Regions from separate parts of the Homo sapiens genome. Here region 1 is linked to region 2. The links come from fine-mapping of genetic effects on gene expression. A gene starts in region 2. The other region holds a variant in brackets. All regions are shown on one strand. Distances are from middle to middle.

The links. PIP is the estimated chance that this variant, and not a neighbour inherited with it, causes the effect.
Region 1: its variant is fine-mapped to the expression of COQ2 in whole blood (INTERVAL, PIP 0.97).

The regions. Positions count from the first base shown.
Region 1 is chr4:83,253,610-83,258,991 of GRCh38, reverse strand. No RefSeq gene overlaps it. Among named protein-coding and RNA genes, the nearest start is that of COQ2, 28 kb to the left of the region's middle. The variant C/T (reference allele first, on the strand shown) is at 2,684.
Region 2 is chr4:83,282,410-83,287,753 of GRCh38, reverse strand. COQ2 (coenzyme Q2, polyprenyltransferase) reads left to right here and starts at 2,956. Exons shown (of 7, transcript NM_001358921.2): 1 at 2,956-3,242. The coding sequence starts at 2,990. RefSeq lists enhancers at 2,824-3,118, 3,314-3,553 and a silencer at 2,924-3,253.

The DNA of each region.
Region 1 (5,382 bases), 29 kb after region 2:
TTTTTCAAATAAAATCGTACATAAAACCCCAACAAATACGTACAGATGGAAATCAGAGACAGTCCCCTTAAACTGAACCTTCCTTTCTTTTAGGATTGTCACAGAGCCCAAGTTGAAAACTATCTCTTAGAGATAAGAATGAACATTGGAGTCCCTACAGTTACTAACTGAATGACTTAGAGTGAACTATTTAAACCTCTCCAGCCTATCTCTTTATATCTAAAATGGGAATTAAAATAATATCTACCTCATGCTGGTGTTTTAAGAATTGCATGAGAAAATGATCTCATCTAAACTCCTGACTTTAAATGTCATCTGTATACTGATTATTCCCAAATGTGTACCTCCAGCCTAAACTTCCCTTTTGAACTTGCACTTGGCAGAATTGAATATTGAACTGCCTACTTGATATTTCAACATGAATGCCAAATAGGCACCTCCAGTTCAATATGTTCAAAACTGAACTCCTGATCTCAGCCTCAAACCTCCTCCTCCCACCCTTCTTGCCATCTCATTAATGGCATCTCCTTTTCCTTTTGCTCTGACCAAAACCTTGGAATCAACCATGACTCCTTTTTCCCACATTCCATATTCAAGACATTAGAAAAGCATATTGGTTCTACCTTCAAAATACATGCAGAATCTAATCTTTTCCTACCACCTCCACAGCTGCCACCCTGGCCCAAGTCCCTATCTTCTCCCCGCTGGATTAACACATTAGCCTCCTCACTGGTCTCCCTCCTTCTCCCTTGCCCCCTTTCATGTGTCCTCACCATAGCAGCCAGGCCGATCCTGCTACAACCAAAGCCAGCGTATGTCATTCCTCTAACTCAGAACCTCCCCATACCTCCCCATTTCTCCCAGTGTAAAGCCAAAGTCCTTAGCATGGCTGAAGGACCCTCAGTGAGCGGGCTCCTGCTGCCTTCTGGCTCTTCTTCCACTCCCTCCCTCGCCAGTGCTGCTGCAGGCCTTCTGCCGCTGCAGCCTTCTGGCCTCGTTGGGGTTCCTGGAATGCTTTCCTAGATGTTGCCATGGATACTTCCTCACCTCCTTCAGTATTTGCCCAAAAGTCACCGATTCAGTGAAACCATTGTCTTCATTTTCTAAGACTTAACACACACCATTACACAAACTTCTTTTTCTCTCTCACTGCTTTTTCTCCATATTAAAACATATGATATACAGTCATATGTCACTTACAGATGGAGATACTTTCTGAGAAATGCATCATTAGCCAATTTCATCCCTGTGCAGACATTATAGAGTTCATGTACACAAACCTAGATTGTCTAGCCTACTACACACCTAGGCTATGTGGTATATAGTCTATTGCCCCTAGGCTACAAACCTGCGTAGCATACTGTACTTCATGCTGTAGGTAATTGTAACACAATGGTAAGTATTTGTGAATCTAAACATATTTAAACACAGAAAAGGGCTAGGTGTGGTGGCTCACACCTGTAATCCCACCACTTTGGGAGGCCAGGGCAGGAGGATCACTTGAACCCAGAAGTTCAAGACCAGCCCAGGCAACATGACTAAACCCCATCTCTACAAAAAATACAAAAATTAGCCGGGTGTGGTGGCACATAGCTGTAGTCCCAGCTACTTGGGAGGCTGAAGTGGGAGGATTACTTGAACACAAGAGGTAGAGGCTGCAGTGATCGCGCCACTGCACTCCAGTTTGGGCAACAGAGTGAGAACTTGTCTAAAAAAAAAAAAAAAGAAAGAAACACAGAAAAGGTACAGTGAAAATACAATATAATCTTATGGAACCATTGTCCTATATGTGGTCCATCATTGACTATAACATTGCTGTGTAGCACATGACTGTAATTTGTTTTACTTATTTTCTTTGTTGTGTGTCCTCACTAACAAGAACCTAACTTCATGAGGGCACAGATATTTTCTGTTTGAATCATCATACTTTATTTCCAGTGTCTGGAATACTGCCTAGCACATAGTAAATTCTTAAAAAATATTTGTAGAATGAATCACGTATATAAAGCTTTTAACAGCACAGTATGTGATTCATTGCCTTCAGGCATTTTTAGCACTCTTTTTCTTCTCCAAAGGATTTATCTTTCCAGAAACCATCTATGAGGAACTGTTCACTTAAGAGGAAGCTGAGGCCGGGCACGGTGGCTCACGCCTGTAATCTCAGCACTTTGGGAGGCTGAGGCGGGCGGATCACGAGGTCAGGAGATCGAGACCATCCTGGCTAACATGATGAAACCCCGTCTCTAGTAAAAATACAAAAATTAGCCGGGCGTGGTGGCAGTCTCCTGTAGTCCCAGCTACTCGGGAGGCTGAGGCAGGAGAATGGCATGAACCCGGGAGGCAGAGCTTGCAGTGAGCCGAGATGGCGCCACTGAACTCCAGCCGGGGTGACAGAGTGAGACTCCATCTCAAAAAAAAAAAAAAAAAGAGGAAGCTGATTTTTCAGATTCTATTTCAGGAGAACAATTTTAACATTCAGTTTCTAAGCCTGAGTTTTTTAAATGGTGTTAGTTTAGAGGGGTGGGGGAAAGGTGGGGACAAAAAGTGGAGAATTTGTAAAAATTATAGATGAATTTTAAAAGGGATATCCCACTGGCTACAGTGGCTCAGACCTGTGTCAAAAAAATAAAAAATAAGGCCAGGCACAGTGGCTCAGGCCTGTAATCCCAGCACTTTGGGAGGC[C/T]GAGGCTGGTGGATCACCTGAGGTCAGGAGGTCAAGACCAGCCTGGCCAACATGGTGAAACCCCGTGTCCTAAAAATACAAAACAGCCTGGCATTATGGCAGGTGCCTATAATCCCAGCTACTTGGGAGGCTGAGGCAGGAGAATCGCTTGAACCCAGGAGACAGAGGTTGCAGTGAGCCAAGATCACGCCACTGCATTTCAGCCTAGGGGACAGAGCAAGACTCTGTCTCAAAAAAAAAAATATTTAAAATATATATATATATATCTAGGGATATCCTACCCATTAACGAAGTATAAATTCATGTAAAGAAATGGAAAGTAATGCATGCAAATGTTAACTAGATTTATATTTGTTTATCTCGTTTAAAACTCTTCAACAATCTTGAAAATTCAAGTTAGTAATTTTTTTCTTAGGCAGCATTGGCATAGTAACAAACTGAAATAATCATGGCTTTTACTTGCTTTATACTTAAGCAGTAGAAATGTCAACACAGCATCTGGGAAAGAATTATTGGGATCAGAGGTCATGTCCCATTGCAGGAATGCCTCATAAACATAAATTGCTTTCAGTTTACATCATTTCCTTGAAGAGAGGAAAGTGTTAAAGACATTTTAACACTTTAGAATCTGCAGGAAGTTTATGGCTCTGATCAATATTTTTTAAATACTGCTAAAAATACACACTAAATATTTTATTTTATTTTATTTTATTTTTGAGACAGAGTCTCACTGTCACCCAGGCTGGAGTGCAGTGGCATGATCTCAGCTCACTGCAACCTCTGCCTCCAGGGTTCAAGCGATTCTCGTGTCTCAGCCTCCCAAGTATCTGGGATTACAGGCGCATGCAACCATGCCTGGCTAATTTTTTATTTTTAGTAGAGGCAGGGTTTCACCATGTTGGCCAGGCTGGTCTCGAACTTCTGACCTCAGGAAACCTGCCTTCCTCGGCCTCCCAAAGTGCTGGGATTACAGGCATGAACCACCGTGCCTGGCCAAAATACACACTGAGTATTTTAAACAAATCCACTTAAAAACATGTTACAAATCAAAAAGTTTTTAGCACAGATCAATTAATTACTAATTGAAAATTGTTAAGATCTCTGAAACATGGAAGAATGTAAGGAAAGGGATACAATTTTATAATTTTTTCTCATTCATGTATTCATGTTTCTGATTTTCTTCATTCTGTTTTTAGCTGGTCTTTATGTGTGCATAGATAGGCTCTGCTTTAAAATAAAATGTGAATGGAAGTTACACACATGAACGTTTTTCAAGAAGTTGGAACAGCAAGTGCATAAGCCTTGACATGGGGATGAATGAAGCAGATTCGGGTAACAAGAAGGCCAGATTTCTAGTCTTGTTTCCATAGTCCACAGCCATCCCATATTATAGCAAGTGGTAGTGAAGATGTAGAGTAACTGGAACTCTTATACATTGCTGGTAGAAATGCAAAATGGTTTTGTCACTTTGGAAAACAGTTTGGCAATTTCTTTTTTTTTTTTTTTTTTTTTAAGTCAGAGTCTTGCTCTGTCACCCAGGCTTGAATGCAGTGGCGTGATCTCAGCTCACTGCAACCTCCACCTCCCAACCTCCCAGGTTCAAGCGATTCTTCTGCCTCAGCCTCCCAAGTAGCTGGGACCACCCACCCCAAACTCCTCAAGTGATTTGCCCACCTCGGCCTCCCAAAGTGCTGAGATTACAGCCATGAGCCACCGCACCCGGCCTGGTTTGGCAATTTCTTATCATTGACTATGCACTGAGTATAAGACCCAGCAAAATCACTCCTAGGTATTTACCCATGAGGAAAGAAAACTTACGTTCACATAAAAACCTGTCCATGAATGTTAATAATAGCTTGATTCATTATAATCCCAAATTGGAAAAAAAAAAAGCTTTAATGTCCTTCAGCTGGTGAAAGAATAAACAAACTACGGTACATATATAATGAAATACTATACGACAATAAAGAGGAACAGACAACTGATATATGTAGCAAAATGCATGAATCTCAAATGCATTATGCTAGGTGAAGGAAGGCAAACCCAAAAAACTATATACTACATGATTCCATTTGTGTGATAATCTGAAAAAAGCAAAACTGTAAGTACAGAAAACAGACCAGTGGCTGCCAGGGACTGGAGGTCAGAGGAGTATCTGACTACAAAAGGGAAGGAGGAGATTTCGGAGGATGATGGAACTGTTCTATATCTTGATTGCAATGGTTTGACATAGTTATAGGCATTTGCCAAAACTCTTAGGATTGTACCCACACACAAAAGGTGAATTTTACTGTATGCTAACTATACCACAATTTTTAAAAAGTGAACAAAAGTCATTTTTACCAAGTTAGGGTGAGAATAATCAGAATTATATTGTTGCCATCCTAATTAAGTTAGGGGCTAAATTTTCATTGCTGTAGATATGCCTGCATATGGAGTTGTGTTCTGGAAAAACCAACTCTTTTCTGAAACCTACAGCCCTTCACTTAATCAATATTTATCAAGTACCTATTATATGCCATACACTATTCTAGGTTCTGAGGATACCTCAGTGAACAAGACATATCCCTACCCTCCTAGAACTTGCATTTTAATAAGTGAGTAACTCTGTAGGTAAATAAGTGCATAGGCTACTTTAAATAATATAATGTAGTGGTAAGTTGTTATAAAGAAAACTAAAGCCTGGTGAAAGAGAGTTA
Region 2 (5,344 bases):
CAAGCTTGCTCCCATCTTAGGGCCCTTGCACTAGACATCCCTCTAAGAGTATCTAGTGATATTCTTCCCTCAGATCTCTCATAGCTACTCCCTTATCTCCTTCAAGTCTTTGAGAAAGTGAGATCAGGGCTGTCCTACCACCCCAATTACCATATTTAAGTATACATACAGCCTGTCCCTACTTTTCCCTGTTACTCTTCTTTTCTCCATACCACTTACCACCTTCGAACATACTGCAAAATCTATTTGATTACCTTTTTCAGTCCTTGTGATGTGGGGAGGGGTTGTCTTGTTTCCAAAGCCTTGTCAGTCATTGTAATTCATTCTTCTGGCCACCATAAAAAAGATGAGAGGTTTATTATTTGTTTTTTTGAGACAGGGTCTCACTCTGTCACCCAGGCTGGAGTGCAGTGGCATGACCATGGCTCACAAAGCCTCAACCTCGGGGGCTCAAGCAATCCTCCCACTTCAGCCTCCCAAGTAGCTGAGACCACAGGCATATGCCATTATTCTCAGCTAATTTTTGAATTTTTAGTAGAGATGAGGTCTCACTATGTTGCCTAGACTGGTCCTGAGTTCCTGGGCTCAAGCAATTCTCTCACCTGGGTCTCTCAAGTGTTGGGATCACAGGTGTGAGCCACAGTGCCTGGCCAGAATAATTTTTGACCAAATGTTTTGGCACTATGGCCTAGCCAAATTGACATGTAAAATTAACCATTTCAGTTCCTGTGGGTAATAGGTTTAAAACAAAATGAGTTCCTGCCCAATCCAAAATGAGGAATTGGCGTTGTGTACATGTACCCTAAAACTTAAAGTATAATAATAATAAAATTTTAAAAAAAAAGAAAGTCACTTCAAAAAAAACAAAAAACAAAATGAGGAATCGGAGCCTTACAGGCCCTTTTAGAGAAAGCCTAGTCCCTTCCTTTTCTGAAGAGTTTGCAGCAGTTAAATGGCTTTCCCAAGGGCATACTGTGCCTTGGCATTAGTCTAGAGGAGACTCCTGAAAGTTAGGGCTCTACTCTATGTGACTGTTCTCTTGTCCTACAAATTAGCAGAGTGACATGTGGGTACCCATCTCAGTTTCCTGTGCACTTTAATTGGACCAAATATCTTAGGATTGAATCACCTCTGGGCAGGGTCAGCATCATGGGTACATGTGCAGTCACCCAGGGCCTACGCTAAGAAGGACCTTGTACTTGGTTTAATGTCCTGCTGTTGCCATCTTGAAATTCTTAATATATTTTTTTAAACAAAGAGTTTGGACCTATATTGGAAAGTCATGGATGCAATACATGACTGATATTACACCCTTTTCAGGTTTGAGTCAGATCTAAATCATCTCCAATCTAACAACTAGGAGTGTTACTAAATTGCCTGCTGGCCTTTATTCTTTGCAGGCAGGAGAAAGGCTAGGTACCCCCTGCCTCATTGCACCAAAGTGGCCAGGCATCCAACTTGCTGTACTTGAGCCATGCAAGAAGTCACAGAATCATTGTACATGTTTTACAGAAAGGAGCCTAAAGACTAAGTCAACTTCCTAGAATATTAAAATCCAGATGAGTGACTTGCCTAGGGTTACTCAGTGAGAGGTTAAATGAGTTGATACATGTAAAGTGCCTGGCACACAGCGATATACAGAGTTGCTTATGAATAAGAGTACTGACCATCTGAGGCAGGAGGATCTCTTTAGCCCAGCTGTTCAAGACCAACCTGGGCAATATAGTGAGACCTCCTCTCTATGAAAAATTAAAAATTAGCCAGCCACGGTGGCTCGTGTCTGTGGTCCCAGATATTTAGAATGCTGAGATGGGAGGATCGATTGAGCCCAAGAGGTGGAGGCTGCAGTGAGCCATGATCCCTCCACTGGTCTCCAGCCTGGATGACAGAGCAAGACTCTGCTGACCAGACTTTTCAGCTTCAGGTTCTTAGCATCACACATGCTGGTTGTCTACTGATTACAAAAACTCCTTTGAAGGGCTGTCAAATTTAAAATTTTCACTTGTGTAATGAACATCCCTTAACCCTGAATGCGATTTTAATTTACAGTCTTGTATGTGGCCACTTGGTGCCCTTTTTTTTTTTTATGGCTAAACGTGTACGCAAATTCTTCTTTTGGATTCAGTAGGTTTTTCAAAGCTTTTTTTTTTTTTTCCTGGTACAACTGTTCCATATGAATAAACACTATCCTTTTCATTTTATGGAGAAAGCTGATAATAGGGTTAAATTATAGGGGGCCATTGTTTTGAACTAAGTTCCTGCACTAGGTCCCAACAGATCAGACTAAGAATCAAGAGTCACCCATGCTAAAGTTCCAAGTCACCAAACTAAAACTAAGTTGTATCTGACATTCTGAGAAGTCAGGAAAGAGAGACAACAGCCAATTTTCCAACCAGGCCATTTCAAAATGCAATCGTCATGACAATTAAGTTTCCTGTTTTAGTCCTTAACCTGGTGTAACCTAATGTTAACCAATCCGTTATTTCTCTGTTGTTGTTTCCCTGTCCCCGCCTCGCAATGAAAGTAATTTGAAGTGACCAATCCGCTTTTTGTTCTCTGCTTCTGCTTTCTTCAGCCCTTTTTCTGTCTATAAAGCCAACTTCCTCCGCTCGACTCTTTGGAACACTTATTCTATTTTACAGAATAAGGTGTTGCCCGATTCTATTTTTTGTTTGTTTCCTCAGAGACCCCGTTCTGAGTGTTGCCCGATAATGGAACCACAAAGTCAATCAAGATCGAGTTGTAAAAAATTACAACTAAATTTATTGTAATTTTTTTGCCTTTTGCCAATAGAAATCCCTTTTTCATTAAGTATTCCTCCCTAGAGTAAGCGACCACGATGACCCCAATTTCACAAGTAAGGATGAGGAAAGGTTCTGCCCACACCGCCGCCCAGCCTGGCAGACTAGGATTGCATCCTGCGGGTGCCACTGCGCATGCCTGCCGGGGAATGACGTCAATCCGAGCTCGTCCCGGCCTCACCAGCGCCATGCTGGGCTCGCGAGCCGCGGGGTTCGCGCGGGGCCTGCGGGCTGTGGCACTGGCGTGGCTGCCGGGCTGGCGGGGCCGCTCCTTCGCCCTGGCGCGTGCGGCAGGCGCGCCCCACGGTGGTGACTTGCAGCCCCCCGCCTGTCCCGAGCCGCGCGGGCGCCAGCTCAGTTTGTCCGCGGCGGCGGTGGTGGACTCTGCGCCCCGCCCCCTGCAGCCGTACTTGCGCCTCATGCGGTTGGACAAGCCCATTGGTGAGTGCGGGCGGGCGGGCAGCCCGGGAATTTGCAAGTAGCAGCCTCCGAGTCGGCTCCGCGGAGCTGTCCGCGGCGGCCGGCCGGGGCGTGATGGAAATGAGAACCTGAAAGCTTGGGCTTGGCTGCCGGGTGCCGTGCGCCCTGGGGCGAATCACCTCGGGACACTTTGAAATGAGAGCCTGAAAGCTTGAGCTTGGCTGCCGGCTGCCGTGCGCCCTGGGGCGAGTCACCTCAGGACACGCAGTCGGGACAGTCTCCTAAAGGACCCGCCAGTTTCACGTCTGTCTGCATCCTGAGCACCTGAAGCGGGCAAGATAATTCTCATTCCACAAACACTTGTTTAAATGGTGACTCAAGCGGAAGGTTCCGTTCTCGTGGCCCTCCTTCATTTATTAGAATGTTTGATCCTCCCCGCAATCTTGTAAGGCCCACAAAGACAATCCTTAAGACAGTTAAGACGCTGAGGAAACTAAGGCTCCTCGTCAGAGCCAGACCAGAAGAACTCTGTGTTTTGATGCTGAGTCGGAGCTCTTTTACCTGCATCACCCATAAGGCAAAGATTTAATTCATTTGAACGCAGCAGGGACAGCGCTTACGGACTGCCTGTCAGCTTACAATCGCCCCCGACAGAAAGATTTTCCTGACCTTCCTATCTTAATTAACACCTACCAACCTCACTTTCTATCGCTTTATCCGCAATTTTTCTTAATAGCACTCACCACTAACTAACCTTATGCGCTTGTTGATTGATTGGCTTCTCCAGTAGTGTTAAGTGAATTAATAAGTTCCTACTACGTTGTCCGGCCATAGAGATAGAAAAAGCTATGGAAACCCTTTGCTTTCAAGGAACTCTGGTCTAGTTGAAAAAGACTATTTGGTGAGCTAGGAAAATATGGATCAAATATGAGTGATACAAAAGCAAGTGCTACAGGAAAAAGAGAAATTACTGTGGATCCCTTGCTGGAAAGTTTCGAGAAGAAATTATACTCCAAAGGACAAGTTGATTTTGCAGAGGAGGGAAGAGATCTTAGTGCGGGAAGTACTTTTGCAAAGACCCAAGGGTGGAGTGTTAGAACACTAAGAATACGAGCCTGACCTGGAACACCAAGTGGGTGTGGAAAATGGGAAACGAGACTAGACAAGAACATATCTGAAGAAGCTGGATAGCGTGGAGGAAGAAGTGAAGGATGAACTCCAGCCAATCTAGATGATGACATTTGCCATTGCAGTGTATGGAGATGTAGTCAAAGGCCTAGGTACATTTACTCCACTTTTGCCCGTACAAGACCCGAATTAGGCCTTGCTTTTGGTATTCTAGATTTATGCACGACCTATTTGGGATTAGAGCACTAAGTTATAACAATCAGCTATCAAAGCATAAAAGCCTACTGAATGATAGGTACAGCCCTGCCATCATTGGGAAGCTGTGTATGACCCCCATGAGTTTTGGGGCCACATTCACGTTGAGAGGCATGCATTTCCAAGCCCAGTTCCAATCTGAAGCCTGGCTGTAATTCTGTTCTTGGAGTCTGTGGCATGGAGTGGCAGTGTAGCCTTATAGATGAACATCTGCCATTATTCCCATTTCCCCAGTTAAACCTCTGGCTTCTATCTTAGTGGCTGGACCTTCCGCCATGTAACAGAAGGCAACAAAGGGGTTATGAGCAAAACTTTGGAGCCAAACCTCTTGGATGTGAACCTCCACCCTGCTCATCTGAGGGACCTTGGATAAATTACTTCACCTCTCTGGGCATCCGTTTTTCATCTGTAAAATGAAGATACTATTAATGATAATATGGACGTTATGAGGTCACGAAAATTCATTAATATATGTTAAGTGCTTAGAACAGTGCCTGTCATAATATGTGCTGAAGAAATAGCCATTATTATCTTAGAAGTGGGGAATGGAGAAAATTGTACTTACAGATTGTGTATGTTTGGAAGATACCAGCCTGCATGGTTTGGTTCTAAATAAGGTGATCATTACAGGATTTTTCAGAAAACTAAATAGTACTATGTTAGAATTCGCTCAACAAATGTATTTTGAACCCCTACCATATGCCAGAAACAATAATTGACAGGAGTAGAATTCCAGGTTT